Regions from separate parts of the Homo sapiens genome. Here region 1 is linked to region 2. The links come from fine-mapping of genetic effects on plasma protein levels. Region 2 holds a variant in brackets. A gene starts in the other region. All regions are shown on their forward strands. Region 1 holds the start of PLA2G1B (phospholipase A2 group IB). Region 2 overlaps LINC00824 (long intergenic non-protein coding RNA 824).

The links. A credible set is the group of variants that fine-mapping cannot tell apart. PIP is the posterior inclusion probability: the model's chance that the variant is causal. Protein levels are from antibody-based Olink assays in UK Biobank. Linkage for the fine-mapping came from a reference panel and not from the study's own genotypes, which makes the PIPs less certain.
Region 1: PLA2G1B starts here. The variant in region 2 is the best candidate, but not a certain one, in a credible set for the plasma level of the PLA2G1B protein (UK Biobank, PIP 0.61).

Annotation. Positions count from the first base shown.
Region 1 is chr12:120,327,502-120,338,428 of GRCh38, forward strand. It overlaps PLA2G1B (phospholipase A2 group IB), which reads right to left and starts at 278. Exons shown (of 4, transcript NM_000928.3): 1 at 219-278. The coding sequence starts at 252. RefSeq lists an enhancer at 8,306-8,375.
Region 2 is chr8:128,547,402-128,558,332 of GRCh38, forward strand. The region is part of intron 2 of LINC00824 (long intergenic non-protein coding RNA 824); the gene reads right to left. Among named protein-coding and RNA genes, the nearest start is that of LINC00824, 12 kb to the right of the region's middle. RefSeq lists enhancers at 7,138-8,337, 7,782-8,076, 9,390-9,534 and a cis regulatory region at 9,457-9,467. The variant G/A (reference allele first, on the strand shown) is at 6,015.

The DNA of each region.
Region 1 (10,927 bases), not on the chromosome of region 2:
TTAGCTCAGGCAATCTGAGTTCAGACTTGCAGGTTGAAAAAGTGCCAGCCTTGAGGGAACCCCAATAGAGGAGCCCTTAAGCCCCACTGGGAACCTCGAATTGAGACTGCGGGGCTGGCCATCCCTGTTTGCTGTGGCCTGTGGCCCCCATTCCAGAGGAGTGAGATCTTAGCTCACTTGGGAGAGAAAGGCGGGTGGAGCCGGGGAGACTTGCCTACCTGTGAGCAGCACAGCTAGCACAAGGAGTTTCATCTTGCAGTCAAGGTGAGAAAAGAACTGAGATGACCAGTCTCAGGTATAGTCTTATAGTCAGTCTCCACACAACCCTGCCCAGATAAGGCTGGAGTGTTTGCTTTGCTCTTGGCTGAGTTTGGGGCTGGCCTTGAATCTGTCTGTTGCAGGAATGACCCTGACGATTTGCCAGCATGGGATCACTGGAAAATATGTTATGCATTTGTCCTTAGCAACTGTTAACCAAAGGGATGGTTTCTGGAGTTTTCAGATCTTACAATCTTGACCCTCATACCCACCACTTTGTACTCAGCCCAGCTTCACGGGCTGGTTGGGGAAAGCAAAGCCGTCAGTTCAGTCGGACGCTGGGATAAGGGAGACAAGAAGGAAGTGCAGCCTGGGCAACATAGAGAGACCTCATCTCTAAAAAAAAAAATGTTAACCAGGTGTGGTGGTGGATTGCACCTGTGATCCCAGCAACTCAGGAGGCTGAGATGGGAGGATCTCTTGAGCCAGGGAGGTCAAGGCTGCAATGAACAGTGATTGAGCCTCTGCAGCAGAGTGAGACCCTATTTCAAAAAAAAAAAAAAAAAAAGAAAGAAAGAAAAAAGATCGCTGCCTGCAGCCTCAATGTCTTATCAAGTGCCTGAATCTGTGCACTGGGTCTGGTTGAATAGTCCCATCAGTCGTGCACCTTGCAGATAAAGAGACAGGTTCAGAGAGTTGCGGTAACTTGCCCAAGGTCACACAGTTGGCAAATGACAAAATAGGGCTCCAGTTTAGATCTGTCTGATTCCAAGGCAGAGGTTTTATTTTTTTCCACCACTCCGCTCTGCAGTGTGGGTTTGTGAGAAAAACCTGGGCTTTGGATTCCAAAGGCCTGAGTCTGAATTATAGAATACTAAAGGGCATTAGAACTGTCATATCAGAGGCCAGGCACGGTGGCTCATGCCTGTAATCCCAGCACTTTGGGAGGCTGAGGCTGGCAGATCACCTGAGGTGGAGAGTTCGAGACCAGCCTGACCAACATGGAATAACCCTGTCTCTACTAAAAACACAAAATTAGCCAGGCATGGTGGCTTATGCCTGTAATCCCAGCTACTCCGGAGGCCGAGGCAGGAGAATGGCTTGAACCCTGGAGGCGGAGGTTGCGGTGAGCTGAGATCACGCCATTGCACTCCAGCCTAGGGAACAAGAGCAAAACTCCATCTCAAAAAAAAACCTGTCACATCACATATCTATTTATTTATATATATTTTTTGAGACGGAGTCTTGCTCTGTTGCCTAGGCTGGAGTGCAATGGCGCGATCTTGGCTCACTGCAAGCTCTGCCTCCCAGGTTCATGCCATTCTCCTGCCTCAGCCTCCCAAGTAGCTGGGACTACAGGCACCCACCACCACGCCCGGTTAATTTTTTTTTTTGTATTTTTAGTAGAGATGGGGTTTCACCGCATTAGCCAGGATGGTCTCGATCTCCTGACCTCGTGATCCACCTGCCTCGGCCTCCCAAAATGCTGGGATTACAGGCGTGAGCCACCGCGCCCGGCCAAATATCTACATAACATTGTTTAGCTGAAATTCACATAACATTAACCACGTTTAAGTAAACAATTCGGGGGCATTTAGTACCTTCACAGTGTTGTGCAACCATCACCTCTATGGGGTTCCAGAACATTTTTATCACTCCAGAAGGAAACCCTGTACCCATTAGCAGTCACACTCCCTCAGCCCCTGGTAACTGCTAATCTGCTTCTCTCTCTCTCTCTCTTTTTTTTTTGAGACAGAGTTTCGCTCTTGTCGCCCAGGCTGGAGTGCAATGGCACGATCTCGGCTTACTGCAACCTCCGCCTCCCAGGTTCAAGCGATTCTCCTGCCTCAGCCTCTCGTGTAGCTGGGAATTACAGGCGCCTGCCAGCATGCCTGGATAATTTTTGTATTTTTAGTAGAGACAAGGTTTCACCATGTTGGTCAGGCTGGTCTCAAACTCTTGACCTCAGGTGATCCACTCCTCAGCCTCCCAAAATGCTGGGATTATAGGCATGAGCCACTGTGCCTGGCCTCTGATCTGCTTCTCTCTATATAGATTTATAATTGGTTAACTTGGTGCTCTTCTGTTCCTATGTCACCTCTACAACAACCCTGTGGGATAAGGAGGGCCTGGTTATTTAATTTATTTATCTGTTTTTTTTTTTTGAGACAAAGTGTCGCTCTGTTTCCCAGACTGATGTGCAGTGACACGATCATAGTTCACTGCAGCCTCAACCTCCTGGGCTCAAGCAATCCTCCCACCTTAGCCTCCCGATTAGTGGGGACTACAGACATGTGTCACCACACCTGGCTAATTTAAAAAAATTTTTTGGGCCAGGCACGGTGGCTCATACCTGTAATCCCAGCACTTGGGGAGACCGAGGCAGGCGGATCACGAGGTCAGGTGATGGAGACCATCCTGGCTAACACAGTGAAACCTTGTCTCTACTAAAGATACAAAAAATAAGCTGGGCATGGTGGCGGGTGCCTGTAATCTCAGCAACTTGGGAGGCTGAGGCAGAAGAATGGCGTGAACCCAGGAGGCAGAGTTTGCAGTGAGCCGAGATCACGCCACTGTACTCCGGCCTGGGCGACACAGCGAGACTCTGTCTCAAAAAAATTTTTGGAGACACGGCGTCTCCCTATGTTGCCCAGGCTGGTCTTGAACTCCTGGCCTCAAGTGATCCTCCCATCTAAGCCTCCCAAAGCATTGGGATCACAGGCGTGAGCCACTGTGCCCAGCAACCTTGATAGTTTTGAGGAGTATTGGTCAGGATGACCCTCTCTTGGAATTTGTGTGTGTGTGTGTGTGGGTGTGTGTGTGTGTGTTTGTTGTAGTCTCACTCTGTCGCCCAGGCTGGAGTGCAGTGGCACAATCTCGGCTCACTGCAATCTCTGTCTCCCAGGTTCAAGTGATTCTTGTGCCTCAGCCTCTGAGTAGCTGGGATTACAGGCACGTGCCACCACGCCCAGCTAATTTTTATTTATTTATTTTTATTTATTTTTGAGACGGAGTCTCACTCTGTCACCAGGCTGGAGTGCAGTGGCGCGATCTCAGCTCACTGCAACCTCTGCCTCCCGGGTTCAAATGATTCTCCTGCCTCAGCCTCCCGAGTAGCTGGGACTACAGGTGCACACCACTGCGTCCAGCTAATTTTTGTATTTTTAGTAGAGACGGGGTTTCACCATGTTGGCCAGGATGGTCTTGATTTCTTGACCTCATGATCTGCCCGCCTCAGCCTCCCAAAGTGCTGGGATTACAGGCGTGAACCACTGCACCTGGCTCTCTATTGGAATTGTCCTGTGTTTTTCTCATAATTAGATTACAGTTATGGGTTTGGGGGAGGAAGACCACAGAGGCAAAGTGCCATTTCATCACATGGCTGCTTTATGTTTAATCATCTCTTTTCTGGGCCGGGCGTGGTGGCTCATGCCTGCAGTCCCAGCACTTCGGGAGGCCGAAGCGGGTGGATCACCTGAGGTCAGGAGATCGAGACCATGGTGAAACCCCATCTCTACTAAAAATACAAAAAATTAGCCGGGCGTGGTGGCGGGTGCCTGTTGTCCCAGGTACTCCCGAGGCTGAGGCAGGAGAATGGCGTGAACCCGGGAGGCGGAGCTTGCAGTGAGCCGAGTGCCACTGCACTCCAGCCCGGGTGACAGAGTGAGACTCTGCCTCAAAATAAATAAAAAAAAAATAAAAATAAAAATGAAATACCATTAAAAGTTCAGTTTCTCAGTCACAATGGCCACATTTCAAGGCTCATAGACACATGTGGCGAGTGGCTGCCAGATTGGCAGCCACAGAATGTTTCCATGATCACAGAAGGTTCTGTTGGACAGGGCTGCTGTGGATTGTCACAGAGCCTGTCTCAGGGCTGCCCCATGGGAGGTGGGGGCTATGAGGACTAATGGAGGGGGACTTGGTTAGGTCAGAATCCCACATCAGCTTGACTGAATGGTCCTGCCTCTGCAGCCCCAGAATGAGTGGAGTCTGCCCAAGCAAAGGGAAGCCTTGCCCAGCAAAATGTTCAGTCCCTCTTATGTGGGTTCCTTGGGGTCATAACAAGACAGAGGACCAGGCACTGCTCCTAGGTTTAGGCCTGAAGGATGCTAAGTGGGTGATTGGGGGTGGCTCAAAGAAGGAGAAGCAGCTATGGTTGCAAGTAAAGTTATTAATTACCCTTTTTTTCCAGGCTGGAGTGCAGTGGTGCAATCTTGGCTCACTGCAACCTCCACCTCCCAGGTTCAAGTGATTCTTCTGCCCCAGCCTCCTGTGTAGCTGGGACTATAGGCAAGTGCCACCACACCTGGCTAATTTTTGTATTTTTATTAGAGATAGTGTTTTGCCATGTTGGCCAGGCTGGTCTCAAACTCCTGCTCTCAAGTGATCCACCCAACTCGGTCTCCCAAAGTGCTGGGAATACAGACATGAGCCACCGCACCTGGCTAATGAGTTACTATTAACTGAGCGCTAACTCCATCCCAGGTCCCATATGCTAAGAACCTGGCACAAAGGTCGAGGTAGGTCCAGTACAAACTTCATTTTACAGAGAAGACAGCTGAGGCTGAGAGAGGTTAAGTGACTGCCCCAGAGTCACACATCAGGACCAAGATATGAGTTCGATCTGGTTCTCATGCTACCATCTCAGGCTAGGGAGTACTGAAAGTCCCTTGAGGAAGGAAGAGATTCAGTCCAACCTACGACTTCCCTCCTTCCCCAGCCCATGAAAGCCTTCCTAAGAACAATCTGGACAAACTCCACGTGCTGGAGTTTAGGCAAAGCACCTGGTGGGGAGGGGGTCCGGCCGCTGCCACAACCCTCTCCCCCTGGAAAGAGACATGCTCACTGTGACAGCCCAGACCTCTGTGGCTCCTGCCACAAAGGTGACAGTATAAGGGACCTGGAAGGGCACTAGGTAGCTCCCCAAGCCCCTACACTCTTTGTACCTTGACCTTCCACCACCCCAGATCCCTGCACAGGTGTGCGAAGCACAGCCTCTCCCAGCCTGGGAAAAACACACTCTTCAGTGGAAAGAACAGCTAAGCATAGCTGCTTGGCCCCTTCAGGTGAGGGCGTACCCACGCTTCAGCAAGGCCACATCTACTTGGCTTCTTTTTTTTTTTTTTTTTTTTTTTGAGATGGAGTTTCGCTCTTGTTGCCCAGGCTGGAGTACAATGGCGTGATCTCAGCTCACCGCAACCTCCGCCTCCCAGGTTCAAGCAATTCTCCTGCCTCAGCCTCCTGAGTAGCTGGGATTACAGGAAGGCACCACCACACCCAGCAAATTTTGTATTTTTAGTAGAGATGGGGTTTCTCCATGTTGAGGCTGGTCTCGAACTCCTGACCTCAGGTGATCCGCCCGCCTCGGCCTCCCAAAGTGCTGGGATTACAGGCGTGAGCCACCGCACCCGGCCAGGTCTATTTGGCTTCTAAAGGATAGGGCTCCTGTTTCTAGGAAGTGCTTAACAGCAGCTACCAGCTACCATCTGCTGAGTGTTTCTATACGCTTGGCACTGTGCTAGCACTGTGCTTTACATATGTTGTCTTTCAGCCTAACAACACTCTTCTGATATAGTTATTATTACTGTGATAGTTGTCATCATCTTCCCCATCTTATAGATAGATGATGAAGCAGTTTCAGAGAGTGTAAGTAACTTGCTCAAAGTCACATGGCTAGAAAGTGGAGAAAAAATTTGAACCTGTGTCTACCTGCCTCTGATTCCTGCTCTCTCCAATGATAACAACAGCAGCAATTAACATGCTGTGAGGCTGTGCTAGGAAGGATACTAAGAGCCTTGTATAGGCTAGCCCACCATCAGGTGCCAATGAGCAAAATGAGGCAGTATACCGGTGTAACTAAACCTTTTCCACTCCCAAAGCCACCATCTTCAGTGTCAGGATCTTCCTGACAGCCTCCTAACTGCTATAATGGCACTGTCTACCTCCATCTCTCCGGAGAAGGGATAGTGTAGCCAGTGGCTCCCAAACTTGACTGATCCCTGGACTCCCCTGGAAAACTTAAAGAGTGATATAGTCCAGGCATGATGGCTCAAGCTTATAATCCCAGCTATTCTGGAAGCTGAGGCAGGAGGATTGCTTGAGTCAGGAATTCAAGGCCACATTGTGCTATGATTGTATCACTCTACTCCAGCCTGGGCAACAGAGGGAGACCCTGTTTCAAAAAAAAAAAAAAAAGGTAATACAGATTATTGGAATGTAAGATGTGCAGGTTGGGTATAAGGATCTGAAATCTGTGGTCTCTCTCTCTTTTTTTTTTTTGAGACGATGTCTGGTTCTGTCACCCAGGCTGGAGTGCAGTGGTGCAATCTCGGCTCACTGCAACCCCTGCCTCCCAGGTTCAAGTGATTCTCCAGCCTCAGCCTCCCAAGTAGCTGGGATTACAGGCATGCGCCATCACGCTTGGCTAATTTTTTTGTATTTTTAGTAGAAATGGGGTTTCGCCATGTTGGCCAGGTTGGTCTTAAACGTTTGACCTCAGGTGATCTGCCCGCCTTGGCCTCCCAAAGTGCTGGGATTACAGGCATGAGCCACCGTGCCCAGCCGCTCTTTTTTATTTAAATTTTTTTTCAGCAGGCCAGGCATGGTGGCTCACGCCTGTAATCCCAGCATTTTGGGAGGCCGAGGCCAGCGGATCACCCGAGGTTGGGAGTTTGAGACCAGCCTGACCAACATGGAGAAACCCCGTCTCTACTAAAAATATAAAAATTAGCCGGGTGTGGTGGTGCATGCCTGTAATCCCAGCTACTTGGGAAGCTGAGTCAGGAGAACCGCTTGAACCCGGGAGGCAGAGGTTGCCGTGAACCAAGATCGCATCATTGCACTCCAGCCTGGGCAACCAGAGTGAAACTCCATCTCGAAAAAAAAAAATTTTTTTTTCTAGGTGATTCTGATAGTTATGTAGTTTTAAACCACTGTTTTTTTGTTTTTTTGTTTTTTTTTTTGAAATGACTATTGGGTTGGATAGAGGTTACTGGGTGTTATTATGCTTTAAAACTCAAATATACTATATATTTTTTCTCTTCTTTTTTTTTTTTTTTGAGAACACCATGGGGGAAAACGCCCCCATAATCCAATCACCTTCCACCAGGTCCTTTCTTCCACACTTGGGGAATACAATTTGAGATGAGATTTTGGTGGGAAAACAGAGCCAAACCATATCATTCCTCCTTGGCTCCTCCCAAATCTTATGTCCTTTTCACATTTCAAAATCAATCATGCCTTCCCCACAGTCCTCCAAAGTCTTAATTCATTCCAGCAATAACCCAAAAGTCCAAGTTTAAAGTCTCATCTGAGACAAGGTAAGTCCCTCCACCTATGAGTCTGTAAAATAAGAAACAAGTTGGTTACTTCCAAGAAACAACGCAGATACAGGCATTGGGTAAATGTTCCCATTCCAAATGAGAGAAATTGGCCAAAACAAAGGGGTCACAGGCCCCATGCAAGTCCGAAACCCAGCAGTGCGGTCATTAAACCTTAAAGCTCTGAAATGATCTCCTTTGACTGCATGTCTCACATCCAGGGCACACTGTGTGGGCGACAAGCCACCCAGGCGCCGAGGCAAGAGACTGAGGACATGAGCTGTTCCAGTATAATAAAATATAAAACAAGAATAGTTATACTAGATATAGATCTTAGATATGATTATATATGAATATCAATAATCATTAGTTGGTAGCAATGACTCTTTATTCCAATATTATAATAATCCTCGCTCTATAATCATAACTTAGGAAAAACCAGACCATGCAGAGATGGGAGCTGAGGGGACATAGTGAGGTGTGACCGGAAGACAAGAGTGCGAGTCTTCTGTTATGCCCGGACAGGGCCACCAGAGGGCTCCTTGGTCTAGCGGTAACGCCAGTGTCTGTGAAGACGCCCGTTGCCAGGTGGACCGTGGTCTAGTGGTAGCATAAGTGTCAAGGGAAAACACCCACTGCTTAGCAGACCGGGAAAGGGAGTCTCCCTTTCCCTGGGGGAGTTTAGAGAAGACTCTACTCCTCCACCTCTTGTGGAGGGCCTGACATTAGTCAGGCTCGCCCATGGTTATCTGGAGGCCTAACCGTCTCCCTGTGATGCTGTGCTTCAGTGGTCACGCTCCTAGTCCGCCTTCATGTTCCATCCTGTACACCTGGCTCTGCCTTCTAGATAGCAGTAGCAAATTAGTGAAAGTACTAAAAGTCTCTAATAAGCAGAAACAATGGCGTAAGCTGTCTCTCTCTCTCCCTCTCTCTCTCTGCCTCGGCTGCCAGGCAGGGAAGGGCCCCCTGTCCAGTGGACACGTGACCCACGTGACCTTACGTATCATTGGAGATGACTCGCACTCTTTACCCTGCCCCTTTTGCTTTGTATCCAATAAATAACAGTGCAGCCAGACATTCAGGGCCACTACCGGTCTCCGTGACTTGGTGGTAGTGGTTCCCCGGGCCCAGCTGTCTTTTCTTTTATCTCTTTGTCTTGTGTCTTTATTTCTACACTCTCTCGTCTCTGCACATGGGGAGAGACCCACTGACCCTGTGGGGCTGGACCCTACACACTGATGTAAGGGGTGGGTTCCTAAGGCCTAAGGCAGCTCCATCCTGTGGCTTTGCAGGGTACAGCCCCCATGGCTGCTTTCAGGGGCTATGTACCTGTGGCTTTTCCAGGCACATGGTGTGAGCTGTCAGTGGATCTACCTTTCTGGGGTCTGGAAGATGATGGCCCTCTTCTCAGCTGCACTAGGCAATGCCCCAGTGGGGATTTTGTGTGGGGGCTCCAACCCCACGTTTCCCTTCTGCACTGCCCTAGCAGAGGTTTTCCATGAGGGCTCTGCCCCTGCAGCAGACTTCTGCCTGGACATCCAGGCATTTTCATATGTATTAGTCCATTTTCATGCTGCTGATAAAGACACTTCTGAGGCTGGGAAGAAAAAAAGATTTAACGGACTTACACTTCCACATGGCTGAGGATGCTTCACAATCATGGCAGAAAGTGAAAGGCATGTCTCACATGGTGGCAGGTAAGAGAAGAGACCTTGTGTAGGGAAACTCCCCCTTATAGAATCATCAGATCTTATGAGACTTATTCACTATCATGAGAACAGCACAGGAAAGACCTGCCCCCATTATTCAATTACCTCACACCAGGTCCCTCCCACAACACGTGGGAATTCAAGATGAGATTTGGGTGGGGACACAGCCAAACCATATCACCATACATCCTCTAAAACCTAGACAGAGGTTCCCAAACCTCAACTCTTTTCTTCTGCACACCTGCAGGCCTATCACCACATGGAAGCTGACAATGCTTGTGGCTTGCACCCTCTGAAGCAATGGCCCGAGCTGTACCTTGGCTCCTTTTAGCCACAGCTGGAGCTGGAGTGGCTGGGATGCAGGGCACCATGTCTGGGGGCTACACAGAGCAATGGAGCCCTGGATCTGACCCACGAAACCATTTTTCTGTCCTAGGCCTCTGTGCCTGTGATGGTAGGGGCTGTCATGAAGATTTCTGATGTGCCTTGGAGACATTTTCCCCCATGGTCTTGGCCATTAACACATTTGGCTTTTTGTTACTTATGCAAATTTCTGCAGCTGGCTTGAATCCCCAGAAAATGGGTTTTTCTTTTCTACCACATGGTCAGGCTGCAAGTTTTCCAAACCTTTATGCTCTGCTTCCCTTTTAAACATAAGTCCCAATTTCAAACCATCTCTTTGTGAATGCACATGATAGAATGCTTTCAGAAAAGGCCACTCACCTCTTGAATGCTTTTTTGCTTAGAATTTTTCTTCTGCCAGATAACCTAAATAATCTCTCTCAAGTTCAAAGTTCCACAGATCTCTAGGGCAGGAGCAAAATGCCACCAGTCCCTTTGCTAAAGCATAGCAAGAATGACCTTTGCTCCAGGACCAAGTAAATTCCTCATCTCCATCTGAGACCATCTCAGCCTGGACTTCATTATCCATATCACTATCAACATTTTGGTCAATACCATTCAACAAGTCTCTAAGAAGTTCCAAGCTTTCCCACATCTTCCTGTCTTCTTCTGAGCCCCCCCTAAACTGTTCCGACCTCTGCCTGTTATCCAATTCCAAAGTCACATCTACAAGTTTCAGGTTATCTGTATAGCAGTACACCTAGCAGAGGTTCCCCATGAGGGCTCTGCCCCTGCAGCTGACTTCTGCCTGGACATCCAGGCATTTTCACATGTATTAGTCAGTTTTCATGCTGCTGATAAAGACGTACCTGAGACTGGGAAGAAAAAAAGATTTAATGGATTTATAGTTACACCTGGCTGGGGAGGCCTCACAATCATGGCAAAAGTTGAAAGGCATGTCTCACATGGTGGCAAGACAAGAGAAGAGACCTTGTGTAGGAAAACTCCCCCTTATATAATCATCGGATCTCATGAGAGCTGGTACCAATTCTCTGTATTAGTCTGTTCTCACACTGCTATAAAGATACTACCTGAGACTGGGTAATTTATAAAGAAAGGAGGTTTGATAGTTCCACATGGCTGGGAAGCCTCAGGAAACTTACAATCATGGCAGAAGGCAAAGGGGAAGCAAAGCACATCTTACATGGCAGCAGGAGAGAGAGAGCAGAGTGGGGAGTGTTACTTTTAAACCACTGGATCTTGTGAGAACTCACTATCATGAGAACAGCATGGGGG
Region 2 (10,931 bases):
GCATGATTCCTATACACGACTCCTCTCTCAGGAAGACCATATAATTTAGGTAAGTTAACCTCATCCCTGGGTCTAGAGGTGAGGCATGTGGCTCAGTACTTACCTACTCAACATACATTCTTCTGTCTACCCGTACAGTAGCTACAGTACTTATGGGGGTGGGGAGTGCTAATTAGGCAAAAGCCAGGACTTTTATTTGATACACCCCTCCTTGCTGTTGGTGAACCAGGAAGCATGCATCCTTGGCAGCCAATAACAATAATTTCGAGACCAGTAGAGAAGGAGCTTGCCAAAATGGAGTAAATGCAGAACAATTAGAGCTGAGAAATGGAGAGAAAGCTATTCTAGGTCCTACCTTGAGTTATAAGATGAAGCTTCTCCTAAAATCAATTATCCCTGGACTATGCAATCACATGAATTAAACAAAAACAAAAACGAGCTTTGTCTTATGCTGCTGAAGTCATTTTAGGTTTTGTGTTGTATTGTGTTCTGTAGCTATACCCAGTAGCATCCTAAAATGAGTAGGATTGAACTGGCATAAGGGAAAGGAAAGATCACCTCAGGCAAGTAAGAAAGACAAATATCGTTTTATGGATATATTGTGCTTTGCTTTGAGTGTGTTCTCTCATTGTACCCTAGACTTCACAAGCATATTCTTTTTTACGCCTAATTATTACTGTTCCTTTCTTTTCGGGGTCATACACATCTTGCTTACCATTGTATCTACAGAGCCCAGCCCAGTGCCAGGAACATCATAGGTACTGGATAAATATTTGCTGGATCGATGTTAAGTGAAAATAATGCAGGGCTGGTAGGCAGAATCAAAACCAACAGTTAGCAGGATCCATACTGGGGAAAAACTGGCTGGGCATCACAGTCATTCCATGCACCAAGTGGCAGATTTGGGGGACTAGCCAGTGCAAAGTACCAGGAGAAGAGACACAGCTTAACAACATGATAAGAAACAGTAAGTTTGAGAATTCATTGACACATTCATTTATTCAAGAGGAAATGGGGATTCATACTTACATATGTATAGTTTACTTACTATGTGCCTGGAACTATTCTAAAGACTTTTTTTTTTTTCTTTTTCTTTATTTCTTTCTTTTTTCTTTTTTTTCTTTTCTTTTTTCTTTTTTTTCTTTTCTTTTTTTTTTTTTTTTTGAGACAGAGTCTTGCCCTGTCGCCTAGGCTGGAGTGCAGTGGCGTGACCTCGGCTCACTGCAAACTCCACCTCCTGGGTTCAAGTGATTCTCATGCCTCAGCCTCCCAAGTAGCTGGGACTACAGGTGTGCACCACCACACCTGGCTAATTTTCATATTTTTAGTAGAGACAGGGTTTTGCCATGTTGGCCAGGCTGGTCTTGAACTCCTGACCTCAAGTCATCCACCTGCCTCGGCCACTCAAAGTTCTGGGATTACAGGAATGAGCCACTGCGCCCAGCCAAGACTTGACTATTACCTCATTTAATTCTAATGATATCCATCCAGGTAATGTGATAGAGTCTAGCACTTAGGTGGTCAATTTACTGAGTGGTGGTTGTGGGATGAATGGATAAATCCAAAGTCTGTTCTTTTTACTGATCAAGTACTTCCCATAAACACTGACTGGGTGCTCCTTAAGAGCCAACAAAGTGGAAAGTGATTGAGGAAACAATGAGAATAATCCTGGGAGTTGATGCCTGGATTCATCTGGATTACCTTCCTCATAGTCTAATGTGCAGGATGCTTTGAAAGCCCCACCCAATACTCCTTACTAAGCTTAAATCATGGAGAGAATGATAAATATGTCCTATGTAGACACAAGGAATCTTTGACTAACACAGAATGAAGATTTTGGAAGATGATAGTAATAGACACCAGGAGAGCAGATAATGGGGTCAATTAAAATAATGGTAACTACTAACATTGATTTAAAAGGGTGAGGGGACTAGTTATAGCTTAGCAAGGAGGCTGTTTACATAATCAGATACTTGAGAATCTACTCTGGGTCTTGGCAACAGGACTAAGAAGTAACAAATACAGCCTCAAGAGATTCTATGAAAGGAATGTACTGGAGTTAGTGGCATTGCCACAGGCAATAGAACTTAAAGGATAGGAATGTGAATGGTAGAGTTGAACTTCAATGTGATTACCCCATCTCAACCACTTAGTCTTTAAGCTTGTTTCCCATCTGTAAAATGGGAATAATAATGAGGCTAATCTCATAGAGTTAGAGCGTGAAGAGCATTGTCTGGAATAGGATAAGTTTTTGATAAATTGTATCTGATGTCATTGTCCGTGTCTCTAAGAAAGAGCATGTATCAACAAGGATGAAACAATATAAACATAATTCGAGAAAACATGGCAAAAAGAAGAATTTGGGAGATGTAGATTTTGTCAGAAGAGGATCTACTTGCCGTTGGGTGTGATGAGTTTATATTTAGCACTTGTCTGCACTTACTATGTGCTTAGCTTTGGGTCAAGCTCAGAGATACTTAAAGGGAACTAACAGCATGCGATTTGCGGAGTCCTATAGGTCTGAGAAGCAATTGTGCATACAGGCTAATGGTTTTGGCTTTGGAGTCAGACTGTATAGTTTTGAAATCCTGTTCTTCCACTTAGTAGCATTTTATTTTTCTCTGTAACCCTCAGCTTTCTTTTCTAAAACAAAAGTGAGGGGTGGGGAAACAAATCCCTAGGATTTATGAGAGATTTAAAAGATCAAATGAGGCCGGGCACAGTGGCTCACGCCTGTAATCCCAACACTTTGGGGGGCCAAGGTGGGTGGATCACCTGAGGTAGGTAGTTTGAGACCAGCCTGACCAACACGGAGAAACCCTGTCTCTAATAAACATACAAAATTAGCCGGGTGTGGTGGTGCATGCCTGTAATCCCAGCTACTCAGGAAGGCTGAGGCAGGAGAATCACTTGAACTGGGAGGCGGAGGTTGCAGTGAGCCAAGATGGCGCCATTGCACTCCAGCCTGCCTGCAACAAGAGAGAAACTCCGCCTCAAAAATAAATAAATAAAAGATAAAATGAGAAAAGTACTTACCATTAATATCTGATATGTACCAAGACATTTGTAGGAGTAATAATAATGATAGTGTGAATATAGGTAACAGTAGTCATTGTAATAATGTTAACATCTGAATTACTGCCTATGGTCAGGTGACAGGCTCAGAATAATAATGTGCATTTTGCAGATGTTAATACAAAGATCAGAATGGAGCCATCGTCAAGGGCAGAGTTTTCCATAGGGAGATGGGTAGAGGGAAAACAACTGGGATCAGAAAGAAGGGGAAAAAGAAAAAGAGGATGGGCTGGCAGAAAGACAGGAATAGTTAATGTCTGAGAACTGAGGAAAGGTGATGATTCTAGAACAGGGAGCCAATAACATCTAATATCCAAGAGGTCAAAGAAATTGAGACCTCAGGCAAGATATGAGTGAGTTTTAAAAGGACAATTTAAAACTTACCATGATAAGGGCAGGAATGACCATAGATGGTTTCAGCAGGAAATGTGTTGATAGGAAAATTAAATTCATTGATACCTAAAAGTGCCACACAGGTAGGAGGACTATCAGGATGACAGGCAATGTGGCTTCACCCATGCATGAGACCTACTTGGCGTGACATCTCTGCTGGGCCACCTGCTCTGTGACCATGGGAGAGTGCTCCCCTTTCTTTCTCTCCCTTGCAGTTGTGTGCCCAGGGGGCTGAGTTATATCCAATGGGATGTGAGCTGAGTGATATGCAGCACTTTTAGGCCTGACCCAGAACATTCCATGAACAATTTTCCCTCTCTTTCTCTATTGCCAGCTGAATGGGAGGATAGAAACTTTCGTTCTATTAGTCCACTAATTTTTAAAGTCCTTTGTCACAGTGGTCAATTTACCCTGACTGGTGTAGTTAATAACTACTCTGAACCTCTGCTTCTCAGGCTAACAATAGCTACTTAGCTGATGGTTGTTCTTTCCGTTTTTGCCTGCTAATAGAATCTTAACGGTGATGAGTTAATTGGCATTCTTTTGCTTTACGAGAGTCTGTGTCCCTCCTCAGCGTTATCCATGGAATGGTGTGTGTGTGTGTGTGTGTGTGCGCGTGCACGTGTGTGTGTGCATGTGTGTGTGTGCATGTACGTGCACATGTGGGCATGTACTGGCCAATTTAAGCCAAGGGCAGCAGTTTTCCTCCCTTGCCTGTGAATATCTTAATAATGGACATGGGGTCAGTGATACATGGAGGGAAGTTCTCTAGTGGGCTTTTAGCAAATTTTCCTTGTTCTTGTTCTTAAAAAGGGGCTCGAAAACAGATTTTCATTTCCCATTTTAAATTTTGCATATTATTATGATGCCTGGAGCTACAGTAGCCACCTTGTTCATTGAGAGGAAACATCTGAAGGCAAAAGCCGACAGGCTGAAGAGGCGAGAATCCCAAGGTGTGGAGCCAATCCTGAAAGCATCCTACCATCACAAGTGTTTTAAGTGAGATAATAATATTGTCTTTTATTTATACCATTCTCAGTTGGTTCTTGTGTTCCTTATATCAAAAATACCCTGACCGATATTTTGGTTAGAATTACATCAATTAAAACATAAGAATCGAAAGCCATGTGGTAAGTGATCAAGTATGATATCATCAAAATAACCACCACAATCACCGTCAAAGCATGGACCTCCTGTCTCCCAACCTAGTGCCTCAGACCTTATTGCTTCCTGGGTCTCAACAGAAAAATAAAGTCTGTGACACAATATTTTCCAAGGGGTGGGAAAACAGCCTAGAAACACAACCAAAGAATTCTTTTTAGAACTTTTAGTTCTTTTGGAAACTGAGGTTGTGGAGGAGATTTCGTTATTGGTGGCATTGGGATGTATCGTTTAGATAATGAGATATTTGTTGGGTAAAGTGAAACCTTGGGATAACAGGTGCCCTATACAAATAAGGGTACTATTAGCTAGATAATATTTAACGAACACTCCCTCCTTATCACAAGCAATTCAAGACAATAGAATAGAATATTACAGTCGATGGTGGGGGAAACATAGAATCCTTACATTATTCCTACCAAATGATAAATACGGAAAGATGCAGAGCCCCTTGTCATCCTGCTTCCTGCCTTCATTCAGGTTATTCAGAAAGATGAGTGCAGCTTGAAGAAAGATAAGGCCAATGTAAGACAATCTGTACTGTGTTCATACTCCTAGAGCCCAATAAAGCAAATCAAATCAAATATATGTGATGAAGACCTAGATGAAATGAGAAGCTATTTTCATGCCATTGAATGAGGGTAAGATGATAAAAGATAATAATAGCATTGAGGAGAAGAAAGTGAAGCAGAAGGAGAAAGAACAGAGATGTTTCTTTGCTGTTTTCCTCTTTATTAATGTCTCTCACATGTCATTTTCTTGTAACATTCGATGCCCAAACAAATCAGCAAGGTAGCCTCCACTATCCATATTTAACAGATGAGGAAATTGACACTCAATGAAGTTCATTGACTTATCTGAGACCACAGCCAGATCTCTGAGTCCAAACAGCATATTGCTTTTTGCTCAACAACTTTGCTTTTCATTTTATTCTCTCTGGGATGAGAATCCTGAGTGACCTGCATTAGTCTTTTCTCACACTGCCAATAAAGACATACCTGAGACTGGGTGATTTATAATGAAAAAGAGGTTTAATGGACTCACAGTTCCACGTGACTGGGAGGCCTCACAAGCATGCTGGAAGGCAAAAGGCCCATCTTACATGGCAGCAGGCAAGAGAGAATGAGAACCAAGCAAAAAGGTTTTCCCCTATAAAACCATCAGATCTTGTGAGACTTTTTCACTACCACTAAAACAGTATGGGGGAAACTGCCCCTATGATTCAGTTATCTCCCACCAGTTTCCTTCCACAACACGTGGGAATTATGGGAGTTACAATTCAAGATGAGATGTGGGCGGAGACACAGCCAAACCACATCATGGCCTGATCTTCGGACTCAGAAATGACAGTCATCTTACCCTCCGAGGAGCTGGCTGCAACTCAG[G/A]AAGGTGCATCCATGAAGAGGCATGTTGGGTGAAGTAAGAAAACACCTTGCTTGGAAGGGAAGATCCCTGACTCAGGATTCTGATTTAACACTGTCTACACTTTGTAATCTGAGTGAAGTGACTAAACCTCTCTCAGCTTGTGTTTCTTTGAGTTTAAAAAGCAAAGAGCCTTCGTGACATTGTGTTTCTGATTATTTATTGTTTCTTCTGTTTTACCTCAGAAGACTGGTTGACCCTTGTTTAAAAACAAAACAAAAAGAAACTAACATAGGAAAGGGGCCTCCTGGCCCCTTGCTATTTATGCTTGTCCAATATAAGTGTTTTCCTAAAGTGCGTAAAGTACTTGTGAATGCCATTTTTTAGATATATGCTGTCAGTTCTAATTGCACAGAGCAGAACATTTTAGCCATGAGAGCTTCTCTGTGTCACAAACCTAGCATCCTGTAAAAGCAGGCCTACAAATGCTTTCACAAATCAACTCATTTCAGAATCAGGTCATTGGATGGTTGGATATATGGTTGGAACCACTTGGTTCCAAACTCTCCTGGCTCTATTCTTTTTTTGTGTGTGTGGAAAACAGATCTGCCAGGATTCTTCTGTATGCCTCAGACTAGAAACCCATCTAGACATCACACACATCTCTTAAGCTGATTTTAATTTCATTCTGTTGTGTGGTCCCAGCTTGCTGGATAGAAGTTCTTCCAGAACTATGTAGCCCAACACACTCTAGGTTAATGCAGAGCCTCCTCCCCACCCCGCTCCTGAAATGGTGCTTCTCCTGGGCTCTGGGCAGTAGCCATCCATTCACATGACAACCCACTTTTGTTTTGCAGGCACATAGGTTTTTCATTTATTCTGTAGAACAATCATGCATGTCAGACAAGGATTGACAGCTCCATTTTATGGGTAGAGAAACTGACTCAGAGAGCTTAGATAACCTGCCAAAGCTGATGGTGATACTCAGAGGTTAACCTAATCAGAAAGTAATTAACCTCCTTCTACTCTAATACATCTCTACAAATAATCCCAATTCACTTTCATCCTTGATGAAAATCTGATTTCTATGAAGCTTTGACTAAAACTTCTTTAACTTTACTTCATTTCATGATCCATTCCATTTATATGCCTCGGTTTCCTCATCTAATAAAAAAGCAAAAAGTAATTAGGCTGAGTTACCTATGCTTGGTCTGTTGAAGTAGTTTGAATTTTTCTGAATCAGGATGAATGCAAATTGCCTCATTATTTCACTAATTAATAATGTCTGCTTGGAAATGCAACTATCAGTGCACAATAAATGATAAAGCTTATAATTATAGATGAGAGCAATTGCTTCTTTTTTTGTTCTTACCTTCATTTCAGTTTATCTTCCTGAGCTATAGCTACCTCTGTAAGGGTTAGGAAAACATTTAAAATATCTAAACAGTGATTCCTTTCTCAAGCGTTCGGAAATTGATGAATCATCTTACTCTGCAGCATTCAAAGTAACTGTGTGCTTGACACATAGGAGGAAAAGTGGGCTCTTTGAAATGTGAGCAGAGCACCGATCGTGTCACCTGCCCGGCGCGTGACCTGTTCACTTTCCACCTGACCCTCTGTGCCCAATGTCACCTGGAGCCTGAAACCTGGAAGGGAAAAGTCCTTGACTGGAGTCAGTGGAGAGAAAATCATCACCTGCTTGGGCACAAACATGCCTGGTGACTGCGTCACTGTCTGTTAAGTGGGATCAGCTAATAGTTGCACAGCGGGCCTTCAAAGCATCACGGCAGAACTGATGAAGTTCCTGTAATGCATTCCCTGTGTGAAGGCCTTGGACTTTAGAGCTCAAGTGCGCCAGGAGCATTTTGAGCTTGCCGACAGGCTCTCCCATGGATTCTATTTGGTTATACGGCAGTGGAAAAGAATTGACTTTCATTTTCGTCACTCTCTGCCTGAGTCTCTCGACTGCAGCCACACTTCTGTTTCCCGTATATTGCATAGGCTATTCCCTCTACCTGGGACACCCTCCCCTCTGGATTGCAGCAAGATTTGCTTCTATGTTTCACTCAGTTATCTACTTACAAATCACCTCCTTAGGGACCTTGCAGGCTGCTCTCTTTCTCCTTACCTGGCTTCATTTTCCTTCACAGCACCTGATACTATTACACATATTTACTTAGTTAGTAGTCCATGCTTTTTCTTCCCCACTGGACCATAAGTTCTCTGAAGGCAAGAGCCACATTTGTGTTTTTCCACTGATCTGTCCTCAGTGTCTACAATAGTACTCAACCCACAATATAACCTTGAGAAACATTTCTTAAAGAAGTGAATAAATGAACGAGTGAAGGAGTGATTTTTTTCTCATTTTACAAATGAAACAAGTCAAAAACAAAGAGGGGAAGTAAGCTAGTCCAGCTCTACAACCATTTAGTGGCACAGCTAGTATTAACATTTTGATTTCCTAACTCACAATCTAGGATTTTATTTTCGTTTTATTCCATACAACACTGTTCTCCAGAAATTTGGCAACTCAGACGGCACTTGACTTTTCACAAACACATTTCTTGCTGTCTTTAACCTGTTCATGTCAATGAGAATGACTATAACCTCATGAGAGACAAGTGTTTACTAGTTAAGTTCTTACTGAAGTGATTGGTCTTAGAACTCCCTTTCAAGGGCAAAGACGATTGAAAATTAGTTATACAATTACATTTTTAAAACATTTTTGAGTATAATGATTTTAAGCATTTGTTGTATAAAGGTGGATATGCATAAAGAACAGGTAAAAATAATAATCATTATAATCATATATAGAAGTCGTCTTGGTACATTTTAAACATATTTAACAATTGGAATCCTGCTGTATGCCGAGTTTTCTATCTCTGTTTATACACATTATATTTTAAACATTTTTCTAATGTCACTAAAACTAACATTGTTTTAGGGATAGTATTTCAATATATAAGTGTGTCACAATTTCACAGTTTTAGTTGATCATTTTCCTCTTATTTATCATTAAGATTGTTTCCACTTTTTATTTATTGGGTTTCTAGGTTTTAGTCCTTCATATTTCTGGGTTCAGTTATTCTATAAACATTTTCAAAACTATGCAGAAAATAAATTGTCCAAGTTTGTACTTAAAGTGCTACAAATAATCTAAAAAAAAAATCAGGGTTTCAAGCTCAAAGCTTCTCTTCAAATCAATAACTGTTGAAGATTTCACTTATTTGCATTTTTAGTCTTTGAGGTTTAGAGTGGAGGGTGGGGATCCGGGGGCAGTGGGACAGGAAACATTGACCAATTTGAGAACAAATAGAGGCTTGGAAAATTTGTTTACATTCTGTTCTATGTGTGATTCTGGCCTTTGTAACAAGGAGGATAAAAAGCCAGAACTCACTTTGGTGGCGCCTGCAGACCTCTGCACTGTAATGACACGAGTGCAAGCTGCACTGGGTGCAAGTCAGCATGACTCAGCCACCCTCCCCACGGGGTGAGAGGAAGCAGTGGTGGAAGGCCAGCACTTGTTCCTACCTCCGCATGTACAGTGGTGAAGAGAAGGCTCACAAAGGGTTTCTCAATCTGAGAAGGAACCCTGTATTCAGAGTGCAGCTTAACCCAATGGGATATTCCAGCTATAATTCTAATAAGGGTGATGGTCCCACTACATACCTAGCATATTTATGAATCTCAAATTGATGCCACCTCTTGTACCTTGCACAAGTAATAATCACTGCCATTGATCTGGCACCTCCTACGTGACAGCTTACTAACCTAGGCACTTTCAGCTGGTCAACTAATTTAATTCTCAAAACAAGTTTGCCAGGCAAGTATTATTGGCTGCATTTTCCAGATAAAGACATTGAAGTTTCTAATGAACTTCAGGTAAAGTTTATTCCAGATAAACTTCACTGAGGTTCATGCTGTCCAAAGTCACACAGCGCTGGGATTTAATACTGGTCTATTTGTCTTCAAAGCCTATGCATTACTGCACACCTATGAGGTTCTGCAGAGAAAAGGTTCCTCCTTCTGCTCAGTACCTGCAATTCTAGGGACAGTTGTCATGGAAAAAACTGTATTAGAATAATCTATTGATCAATAATCTCATTGACTAGCTATTTAATGAGCACTTACTTTGTGCCAGGCTCTCTACTAGTTTCCACTGACAGAGTTGAATAGAACACATTTCTGATCATAAAACGGGAGGAGGGCGAGATTCGAAGGGCAGGATTGTGAGATACATAAGCCTCCACTCTCAGGACATAGAATACTCTATTCACCACAGGGATTAGCTCGTCACAGAAACTCAATAATATTTGTGGAAGAAGACAAAGATCAAAGGATGGGTGATAAATTATAAGGCGCTTAAAACTTAGTCTAAATACTTGGAATCTATTCTCAGGTTTATTCTGTATTCACTGTGCAACTTTTGGAAGTTTTGTGTAGCCCCCTAAGCCTGCCTCCTTACTTTTAAAAGTGGAGATAAACATCTTTGTCTGATTTCACTCATTGGATCACTGTGGATCCAGGGGATCAGGGGATCAACTATGGGTATCAGAGCTACTAAAAAGGTAAACATCAGTTTCCAAGTATCAGGAACTATAATATTTGTTGGCCAAATCAACCAATCAATATTTATTGCATACCACATGCCAAGTATAGGACTAAGGACTTCACAAACGCTCTACATTTGTGCCTTCAACAACAACACTTGATTAATGAATGTCTCCATTTTATAGATGAGAAAACTGAGGTTCACACTGTTTAGATAGCATGCTGGAGATGACACAGCTGGTGAGGGGAGAAGCAGGAATCAGATTCTCATTGCCTGATGCTGATGTCCCAGCTCTTATAACTGTGCTTTCACCCCAGCAGCTGCATGTGACAGTCATCCTACTAGAAATATTTCTGCAGGAATTATATGCCTGTTCTTAATTTTCCCC